2 separate regions of the Homo sapiens genome follow, and region 1 is linked to region 2. The links come from fine-mapping of genetic effects on gene expression. A gene starts in region 2. The other region holds a variant in brackets. All regions are shown on one strand. Distances are from middle to middle.

Region 1 (2,902 bases), 45 kb before region 2:
ACCTTGCTTCCCTCCTGCCTCCCCACCTCACTGTCCAAATTCTCTACAGAGCAATCGGAGTGATCTTTTATTTTTTTGAGACAGTCTCGCTCTGTCGCCTGGGCTGGAGTGCAGTGGTGCGATCGCGGCTCACTGCAACCTCTGTCTCCCAGATTCAAGCAATTCTCATGCCTCAGCCTTGCGAGCTGATGGGTGGGAGCATGCGCCACCACACCCAGCTAATTTTTGTATTTCTAGTAGAGAGAGTTTCGCCATGTTGGCCAGGCTGGTCTTGAACTCCTGACCTCAAGTGATCTGCCTGCCTCGGCCTCCCAAAGTGGTGGGATAACAGGCGTGAACCACTGCACCTGGCCCAGAGTGATCTCTTAAAAATGTGAATCAAATCATGATCAAATCATGTCACTTTCCTGCTCAAATTATTTTAGGAGCTTGCGCCTCACTCAGAATTAAATGCACGCCTAATCCTGGCTTACAGTGCCTAGCATAACTGGCCTCTGCCTCCTTTCCAGCCTCATCTTGGGCAAACGCCTGGCTCTGGGGTCACAGCTACATCAGCCTCCTCTCATCCCTGAGCACACCGAGCCTGTTTCCCCCTCATGGCCTTTGTCCTGACTGCCCTCTGCCTACCAGTCTTGGCTGACCCCTTCTCACCATTCAGATCTCAGCTCCTGGGTTACCTCCCCAGAATGGCCTTCCCTGATTACCCAATATCTCACCCCAGTTTAATTCTGTATGTGTCTTATCAGTAGCTGACCATGGCTTGTTAAGTGTCCGTTTCCCCTACTGGGAAGTAAGACCCCTGGACACAATGACCTTGTTCTTTACCTGGTTCACCAGCATCCAGAACAGGGCCAGAATGAGTGCTCAGAAAATACTGCATGAGAAAATGTCATTCCCCAACTTGAGCCTGTTTCCCCATCTATAAAACAGGGATAATACAGAGCATCTACCTCACAGGGTTAAGATTAAATGAGATATTCATGTGAGGCCCAGGCATAGTGCCTGGCACTTGGTCACCATTGGCTAATAATACTGTTATCAATACCATAATGGAATCCCCTGGCAGGAACACGTGGGCCAGGCCAGCGGGATTCCCACACACTCCCCAGATGACCTGGTTCCAAGCAGCTGGGCTAACTGGCCCTGGCCCATTTTCTGTCACTGCCAATGTCTTCAACATCCGATAGCAGAGAGAGGGTAAATTCAGGGATGAAGAGTGCAGGAGAGCGTGCTTCAACTCAACAGTTTATTAGAAAGGCCATGGACAGATGAACCCTGAGTAACCAGCTGAGGAAGAAATGAAAAAAGACCCTGTCCCTCATGGCCCGCCCACTGGCCTCCTGTGAACTCTGTCCTGTTGCCAACCCCAGATGAAGTCAGCCAAAAAGTGCTTTCCACATCCTCTCTCTGGGGCTGCCCAGCCTGACCG[C/T]AGGGGATCCACTGGCAGAGCCAAGGTGGATGCTGGTGCCTGAAGCTGGAAGCCAGCAGGACATGAGACCCCTCCTGTAGCAGGAAGTGGTTCTAGAACTCCCAGCAGAACAGAACGGAAAAGGAGCTGATTGGGGATAGAATGAGTTCTGCTAAACAGCCAGATGCTCTGAGAGAGGTGACACTGGACTGTCTCGGAGGTGTGTGCAGATGGCTACAGGTGGCCAATCGTGGGGGTCCCCAGGGTGGGATCCCAAAGCTGCTCTAAAGAGTCTCAGAGAGCCCCAGCGTGACTCAGTTCCCCTCCTGGGGCCGCAATGGCTGTTTCTGCTCCCAGAAAGGCAAATGGATCTTGTAAAAATCCATGGTGGTTGATGCCATTTTTTTCATAAAAAAAAGTTTATACAGTGAATCGCTTTCCACCAGCAGAGCCTGAGCCGAGAAGAGTCCATCCTGGGGAAGGAGAAGGCACTTCTCACACCCTCATTAGGGGTGTTCTGGGCTGGCAGCTTCCCCGGCCCCTCGGGTTCCAGCTCCCTCTGGCCCTGTGGTTCCGGCCTGCTCCCTCTGGGAAGCATGCTGACTGTGTCAAGCTAGCACCGCCCTGTGGCCCGAATGCCCTGGTGCCTCACAGGGTGGTGGATGGCAACTTCCTCACTCGCCGCTGGGCCAGGATGGATGACTCGATGGGCTTCAGCTGGGGGGTGGGCTTGGAGCTGTTGAGTGCGGAGTACGTGGCAGCCATGGCTCCCTGAAAGAGAAGTGGGGAGGTCAGGTCACAATGGTGGGAGATGTAGCGGGGAGGGGATCCATGCCCCAAGGGTAGGCCAGCCCCTCTCAGTGTTCCACAGCCCACTTTTTTTGGTTTTGTTTTTGTTGTTTTTTTTTTTTTGAGATACAGTCTCACTCTGTCACCCAGGCTGGAACGCAATGGCACAATCTTGGCTCACTGCAACCTCTGCCCCCAGGGTTCAAGCGATTCTCCTGTCTCAGCCTCCCAAATGGCTGGGATTACAGGCGCTTGCCACCACACCTGGCTAATTTTTGTATTTTTAGTAGAGATGGGGTTTCACCATCTTGGTCAGGCTGGTCTTGAACTCCTGACCTCGTGATCCACCCACCTCAGCCTCCCAAAGTGCTGGGATTACAGGTGTGAGCCACCGCGCCCAGCCTAGCCCACTGTTAATCCAGCCTCAGTGGTCCTTTATGGTCATGGGTCCTGCCTCCCCCATCAGACTGGAGGGTTCAGAGGTCAGCAGCTGTGCCTTCCAGAGGATTGGGGGCTGTGAGTGCACCGTGACACTGTAGCATGTTAGGCTCCCTGACGGCAGGGCTGTGTCTTCTTCTCCTATGTTCCACCTCATGGTGCTTGGTACAGACATGGCATTGCCTGGCTCTTCCACAAGTCCCTGACCATGCCACCTTGGGCTGACCCCCCAGATGCCCAGCAGCCCAAGGGTGGCCATACCTTCAC
Region 2 (2,902 bases):
CTGAGCAGCCTAGCAGTGCCTGTAAAATCCCCATGGCAGGAATCCCAGAGCAATTTACTCCAAATTGCTCCTTCAGGTTGGTTACCTAATCCTGCCGCGCCCACCCTCCAATAGCCAGTGTCGGCCATCCCTTTAAAGGGGCAGCACACCCTGGGGGCTGGGGACCCTGGGTGCTCACCCTGATCTAAGCCTGTGGTCCTGAGAGGCAGGACACTTGGTGGCTGCCCTAGGTAAGAGAGGGCAGAGGAGGGGACTGAGACAGGGGCTCCAGGCCCAAGCTGGGAGAAAGTCATCTCAGCTCCTGGGCTCAAATGAGGTCTCCATTCCCTCCCTGCATACCCCCAACAACCACCTGGGAAGGAGAATATCACCTGCTTCCTTCCCAGCAAGAGGTTAAGGAGGAAGTTTTCCACCAGCTCATTCAGGGGCTTGACCTTGACCCTGGGGTCAAAAGGCACAGGAAGAGGTGGCCTTCTGCACGCTTAGGGACTGGAGCCACAGAGCCCTCAAGGGAGGTCAGGAGCTGCTTCTGAGAGAGAAGGAGCTGGGTTGTCTGGGGAGTCTGGGCTGGCAGAAGCCAAACTCCCCAAGGGCCCAGCCCTTCCTACCGGAAGGGGCATAAGAAGGGAGGCAGGCACCAAGGTCCCCCCACGCCCTGCCAGGAATCATCTTCACAAGGTCTAAGGGCTCTTCCCCACTCTCGTCTCCACAGCCTGGGGTAGGGCACACAGGTGTCCTCTGGCCCTAGCCTCAGGGCAAAGAAAACCAGGAGTTCCAGCCCCAGACGGGTGGTGCCATCCCACACTCCGCATCCGCCAGGGGTCAAGAGGAGCAATCCTTCTAGGCTCAGCAGCGGTGAAGCCAGAAGCAGGGAGCTCTTGGCGGAGGGCCCTGGGAGAAGTGGGGGTCCCATAACCCCTGTCTCTGGTAGAATCCCAGACATCTGGCACTGAAGATCTCCCCGTCTGCATTAATGGAGGAAGCTCCGACAGCTCTGGACAGATGCCGGGACGGGTCCTAGGTGTGGGGTGAAGGCGACCAGATCTCAGCGCCCCATAGGATCCCCTCTCCTGGCTATGGCGGGGAGGTAGTCGGCGCTTGGCGGAACTGTCCCTCGCACACGCACACCCGGGCATAGGGGGGTGGAGCCGGACAGTGGGCAAGAGATCGGAGGGCACTCGCGCCCTCGCGGGCGCCCGCCGGACTGCAGCGGCGCTTCGGGCCGCCCCGCCCCTGTGAGGATCCGGGCTCGCCGGCCGCGGGCGCCCGTCCCCCGCCCCGCTCACTCACCTCCGGGTCCAGAGGCACTAGCTCCATGAGCGGCCAGGGCTCCTTGAGCTGGGCGAGCGGCATCTCGCCGCCGCCAGGTCACCCGCGCTCCTCCGGCGGCCCCGGCTGCGCCGCCTCCCGGGTCCTGGGGTCCCTGGCTCTGCGACCCGAACCGCCGCGCCCCCCCGAGCCCCTCGCGCTCCGGCTGGGCCGTCCGCCGCCGCCGCCGCGGCACTAGCACTTCGGCTCCCTCCGTCACCCGGCGCCGCCGCGCCCATTGGCTACCTGCGCGGGGGCGGAGCCGGAGAAGCCCCGCCCCAGCCCCCGCGGCGCGGCATTCCCAGCGCGGACCCCCGCCCCCGCCGCGCCCCGAGGGCCGGCCCCGCCCCTGCCGCGAGCCCCCGGCCCGCGCTCGGCTCCGCCGGAGAGGCCCTGCTGGCTCCTTCCCTTCCAGTGGTGTACCCCTGGACACACCACACCAGGGCCACCGTTCTCCCCCGCTCAGCTCTTTTGGAATCCCAGCCCAGATGTTCCTTCTCCTTCCAACGGGAGAGAAGCACCTTATCCCCGACCCCAGCACACACATTCACACTGGGTTCCTGGGCCTGATCTAGGCTGAGGCTTGGAAGGAGCCTGAGACCCACTCCCCTTAGGCCCTCAACTCACCAGGCCCTAGAGATCCCCTATCCTCTAATTTCTACCCCGCCCTGAAGCTAACACTGTGATCTCCGGGCGATCTCAGTGCCCCAGGCCAAGATGGGCATCAGCAGTTGTTACCACCATCAGGACCCATAGTGCCACCACAGAGTGATTGATTGATCGATTGATTTTACATAATGTATATAAATATTACATATATAAATAAATATGTATAAATAAATATTATATATATGCACATATATGTATGTATGTGTGTATATAGTGAGAGAGAGAGAGACACGAAGTTTCGCTTTGTTACCTAGGCTGGTCTCTGACTCCCCGGCTCAAGTGATCCTCCTGCCTCGGCCTCCCAAAGTGCTGGGATTACAGGCATGAGCCACCGCGCCCGGCCAAGAGTGATTTCTTAATATGCGTTTTTGCAATCTGTGCTCTGCCCTATCACTTGAAGGGGGTCCTTTCAGGTCAGGTCTCCCTGGAGTCACCTGCAGCCCCAGCTCTGGACTAGTTTGGGTTTGCGACTCTCTGAGGAGGGACCAGGCTCCCAGGATGAACCGAGGCTTGGTGGGACTTGGAGTGAAAGGCCAGGGAGACTGGTTGCCCCAGAGAGATTCAGCCTCCACCTAAAGAGCCTTAGGGGTCCGGGTGTGCTGAGATGTATTCACATGTGAGGAGTGAGCTTGCTGGAGGGACAAGCTTGCTGGTTTCGCAGGAAGACTGGTCAGTTATTTGCAAAGCTGTTCTAAGGCAGGGGAATGGGAAGGAATGTTTATCAAAAGCTTCCTGCGAGCCATGTGATTTCCTTGAATGATTACCACCACCTAGTTTACAAATCCTGAAACAAGCTCGGAAAGATGAAGTGACTTACCCAAGGTCACACAAGAGGTTGAGAACAGACTAGGGCTTAAAAAAATCAAAGTGTCACACCTGTAATCCCAGCACTGGGAGGCCGAGGCGGGCGGATCACGAGGTCAGG

The links.
Region 1: its variant is fine-mapped to the expression of RPS6KA1 in whole blood (INTERVAL, PIP above 0.99).

Annotation. Positions count from the first base shown.
Region 1 is chr1:26,573,356-26,576,257 of GRCh38, reverse strand. RPS6KA1 (ribosomal protein S6 kinase A1) reads right to left here. Exons shown (of 22, transcript NM_002953.4): 21 at 2,897-2,902; 22 at 1,233-2,179. The coding sequence ends at 2,057. Among named protein-coding and RNA genes, the nearest start is that of MIR1976, 20 kb to the right of the region's middle. The variant C/T (reference allele first, on the strand shown) is at 1,430.
Region 2 is chr1:26,528,372-26,531,273 of GRCh38, reverse strand. It overlaps RPS6KA1 (ribosomal protein S6 kinase A1), which reads right to left and starts at 1,513. Exons shown (of 22, transcript NM_002953.4): 1 at 1,291-1,513. The coding sequence starts at 1,353. LOC124903884 (a long non-coding RNA gene) reads left to right here. Exons shown (of 2, transcript XR_007065558.1): 1 at 1-76; 2 at 713-2,154. RefSeq lists an enhancer at 1-907 and a silencer at 1,149-1,628.